Linked DNA regions of Homo sapiens. The protein of the gene in region 4 purifies or fractionates together with the protein of the main gene of each other region. This does not show direct contact. Each region holds a gene or a part of one and is shown on either strand. Other genes may lie near its edges.

Region 1 (3,500 bases), on a different chromosome or scaffold from region 4:
GTATGTGATATTTTGAAAAGCAGAAAATAGTTATACTTACAAAAAACAGCTAAGAAAAAGCAGAATAAGGCGAGTGTCGTGGTGTGTGCCTACAGTTCCAGCTACTTGGGAGGCTGAGGGAGGAGATCACTTGAGCCCAGTGTTTGAGACCAGCCTGAGCAACACAGTGAGAGTCCACATCCCCAAAAAGCAAAATAAATCTAAAGGGAACAGGTAATTTCCCCACACATCTAATAATTCCACTATAAAATGCAAATAAAGTTTAACACCTGGGTTCTGCGCTCTGACCTCCAACAACATGATTTAGACTAAGTTATTTCATGCCTGTAGGTCCACTTTCTAAATAGAGATCACTGATAATTAAGTCCCAAAGATAATATGATAGCACGCTTCTGGGCATTAGACATCCAAAGATCTCATCCCACTGCCTCCCAAGGCCTCAACTTCTCCATTTGTAAATTAAAGATGGTTAACTTTTTAAGCCGATAGTTTCTATACTTTAAACTTTTTATTTATTTATTTTAGCATCTATAATAACATCTTAAGAGAGAACCGCAAAAGATAAAAGCAAAAAGTTTCCTGTGTTATCCACAGTAATCCTAAGGCAATAAAGAACATAAATATTTTCTGTTCAGTGGGCCTCACTGCAACCTCCGTCTCCTGGGTTCAAGCAATTCTCCCGCCTCAGCCCCCCGAGTAGCTGGGACTACAGGTGCGCACCACCACGCCCGGCTGACTTTTGTATTTTTAAGAGAGAAGAGGTTTCACCATGTTGGCCAGGCTGGTCTCAAACTACTGATCTGAGGTGATCTGCCTGCCTCGGCCTCCCAAAGTGCTAGGATTACAGGCATGAGCCACCGCACCCGACCTAGTGATTTTTAAATTAAGGGAACTTTCAAATTTAATGTTTTATGAATCTATGTATCAACAAGTTTAGAAAATCCAAAGTGTCCAATGGCAAAAAGAATCATACACAAAGTTAAAAGACAAAGGATAAATTTGAAGAAAACATTCCTTAATAAAGATTTCCTGGCAGGACGTGGTGGCTCACGACTATAATCCCAGCACTTTGGGAGGCCGAGGCCACTTTGGGAGGCCGAGGCGGGCGGATCACAAGGTCAGGAGATAGAGACCATCCTGGCTAACAGGGTGAAACCCTGCCTTTACTAACAATGCAAAAAATTTGCCGGGCGTGGTGGCACGCACCTGTAATCCCAGCTACTCGGGAGGCTGAGAGAATTGCTTGAACCCAGGAAGCAGAGGTTGCAGTGAACCCTGATCGTGCGACTGTACTGCAACCTGGGCAACAGAGCGAGGATACATCTCAAAAAAAAAAAAAAATTCCTATAAGAAAAAGATCAATAAGCCAATAGAAAATTTGCATAAACAGCCAGGAGCAGTGGCTCACGCCTGTAATCCAGAGCTTTGGGAGGCTGAGGCGGGTGGATCATGAGGTCAAGGAATCAAGACCATCCTGACTAACATGGTGAAACCCCATCTCTACTAAAAATATAAAAATTAGCTGGGCCTGGAGGTGCAAGCCTGTGGTCCCAGCAACTCGCGAGGCTGAGGCAGGAGAATCGCTTGAGCCCAGGAGGTGGAGGTTAAAGTGAGTCAAGATGGTGCCACTGCACTCCAGCCTGGTGGCAGAGCAAGAGTCCATCTCAAAAAAAAAAAGAAAAAAAAAAAGAAAAGATGTCCAGTATCACTTATAATTAACAAATATAAATTAAATCACAATCTAAACTTCTTTAACCTTTTTAACTATAAAATTCTACAAACATAAAATTACATCAAACATACAGCTTAACAAATAATTACAAAACAAACAATGATGACAATATAATTTAAGATATAGAATAGGCCAGGCGCAGTGGCTCACAACTGTAATTCCAGCACTTTGGGAGGCCAGGGCCAGCGGGCGAGCGAATCACAAGGTCAGGAGATTGAGACCATCCTGGCTAACATGGTGAAACCCCGTCTGTACCAAAGATACAAAAAATTATCACACGCCTGTAGTCCCAGCTACATGGGAGGCTGAGGCAGGAGAATCACTTGAACACGGGAGGCAGAGGTTGTGCCGAGGGAGCCGAGATTGCGCCACTGCACTCCAGCCTGGACAACAGAGCAAGATGCCATCTCAAAAAAAAAAAAAAAAAACAGCTACAGTATACTGGCCAGGCACAGTAGCTCACGCCTGTAATCCTAGCACTTTGGAAGGCCAAGGCGGGCAGATTACTTGAAGTCATGAGTTTTAGACCAGCCTGGCCAACATGGCACAACCATTTCTCTACTAAAAATACAAAAAATTGGTTGGGTGCGGTGGCTCACGCCTGTAATCCCAGCACTTTGGGAGGCCAAGGCGAGAGGATCATCCGAAGTCGGAAGTTCCAGACCAGCCTGACCAAAATGCAGAAACCCCATCTCTACTAAAAATGCAAAATTAGCCAAGCATGGAGGCACATGCCTGTAATCCCAGCTATTCAGGAGGCTGAGGCAGGAGAACTGCTTGAAGCTGGGAGGGAGAGGTTGTGCTGAGCTGAGATTGCACCATTGCGCTCCAGCCTGGGCAACAAGAGCGAAACTCCGTCTCAAAAAAAAAAAAAATTAGCTGGGCATGGTGGCACGCGCCTGTAATCCCAGCTACTTGGGAGGATGAGGCAGGAGAATCGCTTGAACCTGAGACAGAGGTGACAGTGAGCTGAGCCTGCGCTACTGCACTCCAGCCTGAGCAACAGAGCAAAACTCCAGGGAAAAAAAAAAAAAGAAAAGATATACAATACTGCCAGCATCCCAAAATGGTAATCTAATCTTGCTCTGTCACCTAGGATGGAGTGCAGTGGCACAATCTTGGCTCACTGTAACCTCTGCCTTCTCCTCGTGCCTCAGTCTCTGGAGTGGCTGGGATCACAGGGGCGCACCACCACACCAGCTATTTCTTTGTATTTAGTAGAGACAGGGTTTCACCATTTTGGCCAGGCTGGTCTTGAATTCCTGGGCTCAAGCAATCCACCCACCCTGGCCTCCCCAAGTGCTGGGATTACAGGCATGAGGCACCACACCGGATGCCAAATCAGGACTTTAATGTGGATGCCTAATGATCCTAATGGTCCCAATTTACACTCCTACCCATATTTAAGAGTTCCTGGTGCTTCACACGCATCCCAACATCTGGAGGTAGAGTGGCATCTCATTGTGGCTTTAATACACATTTCCCTAAAGACTAATGAGGTTGAACGCTTTTTTATTTGGTTGTTCATGGATATTATCTTTGGGAAACCTTTTTACTTTTCTTTTTTTGGGACAGTCTCACTTTGTCACCAAGGCTGGAGTGCGGTAGGACGATCTCGGCTCACTGCAACCTCTGCCGCCCAGGTTCAAACGATTCTCCTGCCTCAGCCTCCCGAGTAGCTGGGATTACAGACACCTGCCACCGCACCTGGCTAATTTTTGTATTTTTAGCAGAGACGGGGTTTCATCAAATTGGTCAGGCTGGTCTT
Region 2 (3,500 bases), on a different chromosome or scaffold from region 4:
ACTACAGGCGTGTGCCACCACGCCGGGCTAATTTTTGTATTTTTAGTACAGATGGGGTGTCACCATGTTGGCCAGGCTGGTCTCAAACTCTTGACCTCAGGTGATCCACCTGCCTTGCCCTCTCAAAGTGCTGGGATTAAAGGTGTGAGATACCACGCCCGGCCTTATGAGGTGACTCTTATATGTATATTCACAACAGGTGTATTTACTTCATGTGGTAGTATTTCCTATTCCAAAAGAGTTGTTTTCAGTGACACATCTTACAGCTGATTTCCTTAAAATCAAAGGAATACAGCGAATCAGATCCTGGTAATTATAGAAAGTGTTGTTCTGAACATGACCTGCCCCTTTCTGGCTGGTAAATCAGTGAAGCTTAGGGGATGTCTATCTCTACAAGGATGAGCAGAGGAGCCAGAAATGCTACCCAGGCCCCTGAGAGCCTGTTCACTATCGCAACAAGGACTGGTGACCAGGGGTCACTCTTCTCCACACCACGTTGAGGAAGGCCTGCCTGCACGAGGCTCTCACACCACACGGCTCTCAGTCATTCCAGGGTTCTATGTCAGGACTGACTCATTTCTCACAGTTCAGGGGCCAGCGACCCAAGGAGAAAACTGGAGTCCACCTCCAGGGCCAGTTTAATTCTTGGATTGCTCCTCCCTTCCCAAAAAGGGGCAACAAGCCATGCCCTGAACCTGAAGACATTACAGCTCAGGTTTCCAAAGCTGAGCAGAAACTGAGTGGAAAAGCAGGAGACCAGAAATTGAAACTAGGGTTCTACGCTACCCGTACAATAGCTGCCCATTCTGTCTGTGACCTTGGTCAAGGTATTTAACTTCTCTGGGCCTCAGTTTCTCTATGGACTCAGCAGAAACAATAGCTCAATTCTATCTCATAGCACATCATGAGAGTCAAAAAAATTAAGTGGGAAAAGGACAAATGCAAAAGTAGTATTTGCTGATGCCAATTCCTCCCACCTCCTACCCCTGCAGGGAGGGGAGGGTCCGAATGACTTACCAGTGGCTCTATTGTGCTGAGGTCTTTAATTTTGTTGCCACTTAAATTTAGATGCGTGAGGTTCGGACACTTTTCTGCCAATACTTCCAGGCCCCCTGAGACTCTGTTATCGCTTAGTTCAAGCTAAATAAGGCAGGGAAAGAAAAAGCAGAAACAGCTTTTAAAATGAAGGCTACCGGCTCAGAGCTGCCCGGCTTTCCCCAGACGGGCAAGAAGGGAAAGCAGTCTCAGGCAATTGTCTGGCATGTTGGTGCAAGCACCCGGCTTTCCCTTCAATTACTCTTTCTAAACATAGGTAATAACCCTTCCCACTCCCCACCCCCGCCTCCCAGCACACACAGACTCCACTCTATTTACCTTCTTAAGTTTGTTTAACTTTGGTAAGTTTGCGATTGAGGTGAGGCCTACGTTGATTGTACTTAAGAATTCCAGTTCTTCAAATTCATCTGTGAGGCCTTCGAGTTTGCCTTCATTCGACCGACTGTTGTCCAGGACAAGTTCTTTCACCTGAAAGAAGGCCCGACCGTGTGAGCGGGGCTGAGGAATGGGGCTGAAGCAGGGGGAGGGTGTTAGAGGACTCCTCAGAGAACAGGGAGACAGACGCAGGAAGCAGTCAGTCACTCCGTCACTTCTTCTAGCTTTCCGGATCACTGTGCTGCCAACGACCACAGGATGGATTTGCCCACCCTGACTTTTCTGCCTTTTCAACATCTGGGTGAGAGGAGGCCTGTGGTGAGCCGAGCTGCAGAACCAGGGGGCCACTCCAGACAGGGGCCTTGGCTGTACCGCAGAAGACAAACCCAGTAAGCCCTGCTGCCTCTGCAAGGTTGGTGGTCTCATTCCAACCCTGCTCTCGCATTCTCCCAAAACCCACATGCACCAGCCACAGCATTGTTAGGGACTTCTGGGCCTTGCCCCGCCACCCCAATGCCCCCACAAGACCCCCACATGCCCAGTTGCTTTCACCCACTCCTGCCATCACAGCAGAGCCTGCCGCTGTAGCTGGCATTCACATGGCAGTACCCATGTGGCCTGTCCTGAGGCAGGCGCAGCAGACCAGGGGCTCCTCCAGCTCTCCCACCTCTAGCCCAGCACTGTCCAACAGAACTTCCTTCAAGGACGGAAACGGTCTGTACTGTTCAAGACAGGGGCCACTAGTCACATGTGGCCACGGAGTGCGGCCAGTGAGACTAAGGAATAGAGCTTTTAATTCTATTTAATTTCAATTAATTTAAGTGTAAACAGACACAGGTAACTACTATATTGGATAGCACAGCTCTAGACTTTGCTCTTCACGGTCCAGCATAGACGTGGAAGGAGAATGGAAACCCACAAACTTAGGATGGGCCCATAATGAAATGCTGAGATCTGTCTCAAAGTCTGTGCTTGGAGGCACCTCTGTGGCCCTGTCTTTTTCCCCACTCAGCTCCCTTACCCACAATTTGGGTCCTAAATCCTTTATTTCTAATGAGGTAGAAAGAACGAATAAAAAGCCACCCTCTCACAGGGTTGTTAAGAGGTAGACTTAGCTGAAGGTGAAACTGCAGGTTCTAATGAAGAAGGTAGAAAGACAGGCCGAGGAAAAGTAACCAGGTCGCAGGCATGAAATGACCCTGGGAGTAAGCAAAGGAGACCCGGTGTGTGGCCCTCCAGGCAGCTGGCCCAGAGTTCTCCTTCCTGCCCCAGAGCAGCCAGCTTCTGGGAAACCCGGCCTCTCTGGACTGGAAGACACCTTAAATGTGATCCCTGCCCACACCTGGTATCTCAAAGAGTCCCTTCAGCCCAGGACACAGCAGCCCAAGCTCCCTGCAGGTGCCAGGAAACACTTACCAATGTCAACTGGATTTGTTGCCTCCCTCCCTGGAACTTCCATGCACAGGCCCTGATTTCTCACCAATGGGTCACATGGCACAAGCCTTCCTTCTCAACAGCAGTCCAGCATTGTTCAAAGGGTTGCTCCTGCCCCTCAGGGCCTTTTCTTCTCTTGGATAAGCAGCCAGGCTTTCTAACCTGTCCCTGTCCAGGGCTGCTCCTGCTCCTTTGAGCAGGCCAACATGCCTAGCTTCTTCTTTCTGGGCCCAGAATGACTAGGTGCCCCTCTTACTCAGGCATCTCTGGGCCAAGTAGAGATATGGGGGAAAGGAGGTGGAAACAGAGTCCACATGAGGCCTGCTATGCCCCTCCTCAGCCCCCTCTTGCCAGTGGGCAGAGCAGGGGAGCACTGGGGTACACATCTGGATCTCAGAGTCCTGCAGGGCCCTGCAACTGCCCTGCCTTCATTCTTCACTGGTGGGTGGAGGCATGCCACTCCGCCCGGGACAGCAGCAATTTGTGGGTTTCATCTAGCACAGCCCACAGAGCAGGAGAACCAGGGAGCGCAGCCCTCTCCTGGAGCTAAGGAGCTCTCAGCCTAGGAAATGGTCACCAAAGCCCACCTTCCTGTTGGGTCTGGGAGGGGGAGGCTCAGTCCTTTCCCACCCCCT
Region 3 (3,500 bases), about 88 Mb from region 4:
TTTGTGATAGTGATTTTATCTAAGAACAGAGGAAGGGGAATAGGACTGGGCAGAGGTAGCAAGATACAACTATATTTGAAATATTTCACCAAAAATAAACACACACTAATACAAAAACTAAAAGGAAATACACCAAAAGGTAGAACTTTCTGTGATTTTAAAAAATTCTACTTCTAAGTCTTTTCCAAATTTTAAGATTAAGTTTTTCAAAACCTATTACGTTTTAATGAAAAAGAAGTAACAAGTTTATGGCCTAGTTTTTTCCTCTCAAAATGTGTTCCACAGACAAGTAGCATCAGCAACACCTGCGAGCTTGTTAGACTTTCAGGATCCCAGGCTCTGCCCCACAACTACTGAATTAGAATCTACATTTTAATAAGATTCCTAAGATTAATGTTTGAGAAACTTTGGCCTGCTTCACAACCAAGCATGAAAGTAGGCAGAAATAAAAATAGTTATCCCAACCAGTAAATAGAAAATTATTTCTACAATGGAACCAGCTAAGCACAGGATAAGGTAGAAGAGCAAAACCAAAATAAACTAATAATGAAAATACTAAGCAGGATCCAAAATGGCCATCTCATACAATGACCATTTACAAGGGTGAAGCAGTCTTAAAGAAATGTTTCTGGCTAGGCGCGGTGGCTCACGCCTGTAATCCCAGCACTCTGGGAGGCCGAGGCGGGCGGATCACAAGGTCAGGAGATCGAGACCATCCTGGCTAACACAGTGAAACCCCGTCTCTACTAGAAATACAAAAAGAAATTAGTCGGGCATGGTGGTGGGCGCCCGTAGGCTAGCTGCTCGGGAGGCTGAGGCAGGAGAATGGCGTGAACCCGGGAGGTGGTGCTTGCAGTGAGCCAAGATCACGCCACTGCATTCCAGCCTGGGCGACAGAGCGAGACTCTGTCTCAAAAAAAAAAATGTTTCTGAAGATTATAGGAATACCTGTATCCTTCAAGACCCAGATCCTGTATCGCATCCTCAGGAAGCCTTCCCTCTTTTGTCCCTGCCATTTTCCTTATTCCCTCCCAGTCTAGGCCATGTATGCTGTCTGAGATCCCATTATTGATATGATTACTAAAGCGATTACTATCTTGCTATGCTGGGGCTACAAAGATAAATCAGATATGCTTCCTGCTCTCAGCCAACTCTACTTAATAGGTAAGACAAGTCGATAAATAAACATTTGCAAAATAATATAACAAATAGAACACAAAGGTATAATCCTTACCACAGCTGTAATTATATAAGTAACTGTACAATTATATTTACTGCCTGGCTCCTTCAATAGACAGGAAACTACATGAAAGGAAGGTCTTTATATATTTTCTTCACTGTTGTATGCCCTTCACTGAGCAAAAACGGAAACTCAACAAATATTTGCTGAATAAATAAATGCAACATATGAGAACCAACATTGTTTAACTCAACCTTGTCAATCTGGGCAAAGTGTGCTGAAGACAAGGAGTTAGTCCTTGACGAGTGAGTAAGAGGTTAAGAAGCAAAGTTAAGGAAGAGTGTTAGATACGGAGACCCCAGCAAAGGTCCAGAGACACAAAACAAACAGTTTGGTACCACTGGAGCATTAGGTGCCAGAAGCCTTATTTTCTGCACGGGAAATAAGGATTAGGAAGACCAGGGCTAGGTTAATAGAGGATGGCAGATAAAAAGTCTGGAATTAACTGTGTGATCCCATAGCATCCTGTTCAAACCTCAAACAGCACCTAATATCTTTTACTGAAACAATCTGTTTACACATCTGTCTCCTTACTTAGTCTCTAAGGTAGCAGAAGGTAGAAACTATACTATGCACTTGTGCATCCCCAGAGATGGCACAGGCTCTGGCTCACTGTTAAGTACTCAAGTGTTGAGCTGGCAGGGTCCCAGAAGGACCTATGGAAGTGAATACCTACCGTAAACACTTTTAAGGCAGCACAGTGTAGTTCAGGGAAGGGCTGACTACTAATGCCACGGAAGAGCTCCAGTGGATCCCGAGATAAAGAAGAAAACCAGGATTCTGTCATCCTCAGAAGGTCATCAGTCTGCTGCTCAGGCTACAGGAAAGAAAAGGAAAATCTCATCAAAAGTTAACTGATCTGGAGAAAAGCACTTATTTAGAAGTCAGACACCTGAGTGCTGATGGCACTCTGTCATTAATTTGTTGTGTGAAACTGGCTAAGTCTGGAGGACTCTTTCTCAAATCCAGCCCAGACCTTTCCCAGTTTTCTTTGAATGTGGTTGATTAAGCAGTCTCTAGAGTCTCTTCAGTTCTAACACTCTATGATTCCATTTTAAATTAAAAATGTCACTAGTCATATAATGAGGGTTATCTTCTTGTATTTACTTCATCACATTTATCATGTTGATTCATACAGATTTATTCTCCCAAACATATCCCACTGTCCTTCATTATTTCCCTACCTACTTACTGGTAAGTACAGAAGAGATGAAATTGCATCCAAACATCTAATTTTTAGCTCCACTGGGGCATTCTTTGATTGATGTCCTATTCTCATAAGCAAGCGTTCAAAGCGAGTTCCTTTGAAGGATAACAGTGAGATTCTTCTTTATTATGGTAAAATATACACAACATAAAATTTACCATTTTAACCATTTTTAGTGTATAGTTCAGTGCTATTAAGTACATTCACACTGTTGGGCAACCATCATAACCATCCATCTCTAGAACTTTTTCATCAACCCAAACTGAAACTCTGTATCCATCAAACAATAATTCCCTTTCTTCTCTACCCTCATCCCCTGCCAACCACTATTCTACCTCCTGTGAACTGGACTCTTTTAGGCATCTCATCTAAGTGGAATCATACAATATCTGTCCTTATGTGTTTGGCTTACTTCACTTAGCATAATGTTATCAGTGGCGCAGGCTTCCTCCATGCTGTAGCATGTGCCAGAATCTCATTCTTTTTAAAGGCTGAGTAATATTCAATTGTATGTATATACCACATTTTGTTTATTGATTCATCTATCAATGAACATTGGGTTGCTTGCACCTTTTTTTGGTTATTGTGAATAACGCTGCTATGAACATGACTGTACAAACATTTGTTTGAGTCTCTGCTTTCAATTTTTTTTGGTATATACCTGAAAGTGGAGCTGCTGGATGAAGGAAATATAAAATGTACAAGGGTTACAATTTCTCCACATCCTAACACTTATTATTTTATGGGTTTTTTTTTAAAGTAATAGCCATCCTAATGGATATGAAGTGAAAAATGAGATTTTTTTAAAGTATGCTCTCATACACTATGACCTCTACCAACCTAAACCAATACAAAAATAAGCATGTAGTCAGAGAACCAGTGACAGGCCTAGAACACATAATTACACGCAACACAGCATATATAAGGCAAAGTTATAAAACTGGAATCAAAGGACCTGGACTTGAGTAGCAGCTGCCATAATTTGTATGACCTTAGAAATTTTCTTAACTCCTCTAAGTTTCATCTACCTTATCTGGAAAATGAAAATGACAA
Region 4 (3,500 bases):
TCACAATGAGGGATAAGTGGTCTACTTATGTGCCAAACACCTTGTTCTAGGCCATTCCCAATATTCCTGACTAGGTGCAACCTCCTGGTGATTCTGGTTTTACAGCTATGGGACTACACGATCACAAGAGCAAAGAAGCCCTCATGTATCTGAAGACTGAGGGGGCCTATAAACCTGAAACTGGCCCAAGGCAAATTAGAGCTCTCACCAGCCCAAAGAAAGCACCCAGAGGTCCAAACAGCTGGGAAAATTTGGGCAGAGGTGGCCCTCTCCAGAAAAGGTGGATTGCTGGACAGTACAACCACAGAGACAGAAGGAGAAAACAGATAGGAGCTTTACTCAAAATCACAAAGACACTATTTTTCATTGAGAACCAGTGTGAGAGTAGGAAAATTGGCAAATGGCCAGTTGCCCCCAGCAGCCCTGAAGAAATCAGGTAAATTCCGCTCCAGAGACGGCAGAGCTGGTGGCGCCATTCTTCAGGGCAGCACAGCCTTTTTCTGCTACACCTCACTCGGCCAGGGCAAAGTTTGTAGACTGCAGCCGCTCAGTCTCCTGGCAGATGTTCTGCTCCACTGTGTCACACTCGGCTAGGAATGCCTAGAAAATACACACGGGGCAGTAAGGGCCCATCCAGGGGTAGCCGACCACTGCCCACACAAGGCTCCTTGCTTACCCATTCTGGGGAACCCATGGCTGAGACTCAAAACAGATTGTGCATGAATGGAGATGGGCCACTGGCCTGGGTTCCAAGGTAAGGGGAGGGAGGGAGCATAGGACCAGCATTCTGACCATGCTCTAGGCCAGCAATCCCCTAAAAGGTGGTAAAGGCAGGGAGCTTTGCCTCAGGGCCACTGCACAGCAACTGCACAATCGCAGGAAGCACTGTGTGCATGAATACTGCCTCCTGGAATTGTGTAATGTGTCAGCCCTACCTGCTCTCCAGTGAGTTCCCTCCCTAAATAGTTTAAATTCAAATATAATTACAGGGACACAGGTGGCTCTTCTCTGACGTTTGGGGTTCCTGCTGATAAATATAACCAAAACAAGCCCATACCACACACCACGCTCCTACACTACCTGATTTTGAACAGATAAACACACATACCTACACATTAACATATTACACCTTGTCGTGCACTATTACACAACTCACCTGAACCTTTTTTACCAAGCCTTTCCTTTTCAATCTACTGTCTTTGAAATTTTCTGGCAGGATCTATGGAAGAGTAAGTTGATAATACAAGTTAGTAAATAGTAAACATGTAACAAATAATCCTCAGTGAAAATGACATGAGAGCACATAAGAAACACCCACAGTACACAAAACAGGTCACAGGTCACCAATGTAAATGTGATATCCATTTTCAGGAACCCTTTCCCTGGGTCTGTATCCTGTATGGCCTTTCCATGGCTCTTGTCCCTATAAAAGCTCCCTGTGTTCTCAATGTCTGGGCCATAGGAACTGATCTTTAACACAGACTTTGTTCTTTTATTGTTTCCTATGTATGGATACTCTGCCCTGGCCACACCATGGGCTCATTGTGACAGGAAAAGTGCCTGCTGCTGCTTCTTTACACCCACCCTGGCCAACAGAAGTACACAGTGCAGTTCACCTTCAAGAATGAAGCATCAGGCTAGAGATATCATTACTATCATCTGCAAAAGAGTTAATGATTTTCAATGGCCTCACATGACCTGGGTCTGGCTGAATCATCTATAAGTAATGAGCCCTGCAGAATTATCAGTCACATATTCATCAGAGAAAGTTAAATCCTCTGTTTCCTGGACCATGAGATCGTGGACTCCTTGGGTCCCAGCTTCATGACGATTACAGATGCTACTGGCAAACATAAGTGTAAATGATAAAAGTCCTATGCTGGAGGGCTGTGAGTGCCTAGAAAGCAGGAACTGTCTTATCATCATGCATTCACCCAGGACCTAGCAACATGACTGGCACACAATAGTAGATGCTTAATATTCTCAAGTGATGGGTTTGCTCAGGCAATAGGAGAGTAAATTACTGAAAGAGTGAATGTGACTGAAATAAAGTCAAAGAAAACTAGTTCTTCTCAGCTGAATATTTACTTACCAGTGTGTCAATCTCCTCCAAGATCTTCATAAACTGCTCTATTGTGGCTTTTACTCTCCTATCAAGTTTGCAGAGAGCTTCAGCTTGCAAATCCTTGGGCAGAAAACCCTGCGGGGAAATAATGCATTATTGCAAGGGTTCTCTGAGGCTGACGGAAGACTCCATGCCACAATACTAATGATGCAATCACACTGAGCCCACCATAGCCCTGGCAGGCCAGGCCACATCTCAGATCCACAACTTTAACTCTTGGAAAAATTAAAAAGGCTGGCCGTGGGCCAGTCCAAGAATTCTATCAGGTTGCAGTCTGCTCTACCTCGCATGACCCACTGTGGCTGCAAATGCCTCCTGAGGCTTGGCTCCAGTGAAGCCCCCAGTCACAAGAAGAGGCAGATGTTAAAAGCACAGGTTTAGAGTCTTCAAAGCCTACGCCTGAAAACTGACTGCCATTTACTAACTTGTGATCTTGAGCAAATTATTTAGCCTATTCATGCCTCAGTACCCTCATTTTAAAAATGAAGATTATGATGCCCACACCCTAGATGGTTACTGTGAGGTAAAGGGAATATATGTACATGTGTCACTAACTTGTGGCACAGACGCATGCTAAAGAATGGCAGCAGTGCTTATTTTTATCAAATTGTCTAATGGTTCACTCACACAGCTTGGCCTAATGACCAGTTAGCTGGTGACAAGAGTTGGATAGCAGGGATCTCTGAGGATGTTTATCACAGCCACGAGCTACAGACACAGATTTCACAACACGTAGCAAGAGCTTTAAACATCACCCAGCAATTCCAACTCAAAGAATTTATTCTACCAAAAAAACCAGGAATGGTCAAAAAAGATTTACGTCCAAGGACAGTCAAAGAAGCATTACACATAATGGTAAAAATAATATTAAATGAACAATACAGAGTTGGCTAGGTAAATAATACATTTATACAAGATGAAATGCATGCGAGCTTTGAAAAATACCATCACAGGAAAATGTTTAATTTTTTATCCAATAAAAGAATAGTTTATAAAGTGTAAATAACATTATATCAAATTTTTTTAAGATGAAAAATATATTTCAGGCTTTGGTAATCGTCATCTCTGAGTTGGTGCCCCATGGGTAATTTTTATTTTCCATATTAGTGCCTATACATGTACTTAAAACTTTTGTACAGTCAGCATGTATTCTGTAATTAAAACACAAACATATAGGCCGGGCGCAGTGGCTCATGCCTGTAATCCCAGCACTTTGGGAGGCCGAGGCGGGCAGATCACTTGAGGTCAGGAGTTTGAGACCAGTCTGGCCAACATGGTGAAACCCCATCTCTATTAAAAATACAAAAAAATCAGACAGATGTGGTGGCAGGCGGCACCTGTAATCCCAGCTACTCGGGAGGCTGAGGCAGGAGAA

The links.
Region 1: the proteins of BAG1 (region 4) and CCDC117 purify together in Homo sapiens (affinity purification with mass spectrometry; 2 studies listed by BioGRID and IntAct, with this or other methods). This does not show direct contact.
Region 2: the proteins of BAG1 (region 4) and ANP32A purify together in Homo sapiens (affinity purification with mass spectrometry; 2 studies listed by BioGRID, with this or other methods). This does not show direct contact.
Region 3: the proteins of BAG1 (region 4) and PSMD5 purify together in Homo sapiens (affinity purification with mass spectrometry; 2 studies listed by BioGRID and IntAct, with this or other methods). This does not show direct contact.

The regions. Positions count from the first base shown.
Region 1 is NC_000022.11:28,775,695-28,779,194, reverse strand, and holds part of CCDC117 (coiled-coil domain-containing protein 117), read right to left. Parts: intron 1-3,500. UniProt on the Homo sapiens protein: Facilitates DNA repair, cell cycle progression, and cell proliferation through its interaction with CIAO2B.
Region 2 is NC_000015.10:68,786,396-68,789,895, forward strand, and holds part of ANP32A (acidic leucine-rich nuclear phosphoprotein 32 family member A), read right to left. Parts: intron 1,525-3,500; coding exon 1,375-1,524; intron 1,141-1,374; coding exon 1,018-1,140; intron 1-1,017. UniProt on the Homo sapiens protein: Multifunctional protein that is involved in the regulation of many processes including tumor suppression, apoptosis, cell cycle progression or transcription. Promotes apoptosis by favouring the activation of caspase-9/CASP9 and allowing apoptosome formation.
Region 3 is NC_000009.12:120,818,923-120,822,422, forward strand, and holds part of PSMD5 (26S proteasome non-ATPase regulatory subunit 5), read right to left. Parts: intron 2,543-3,500; coding exon 2,433-2,542; intron 2,058-2,432; coding exon 1,917-2,057; intron 1-1,916. UniProt on the Homo sapiens protein: Acts as a chaperone during the assembly of the 26S proteasome, specifically of the base subcomplex of the PA700/19S regulatory complex (RC).
Region 4 is NC_000009.12:33,254,709-33,258,208, forward strand, and holds part of BAG1 (BAG family molecular chaperone regulator 1), read right to left. Parts: intron 2,201-3,500; coding exon 2,093-2,200; intron 1,220-2,092; coding exon 1,157-1,219; intron 601-1,156; coding exon 511-600; 3' UTR 1-510. UniProt on the Homo sapiens protein: Co-chaperone for HSP70 and HSC70 chaperone proteins. Acts as a nucleotide-exchange factor (NEF) promoting the release of ADP from the HSP70 and HSC70 proteins thereby triggering client/substrate protein release.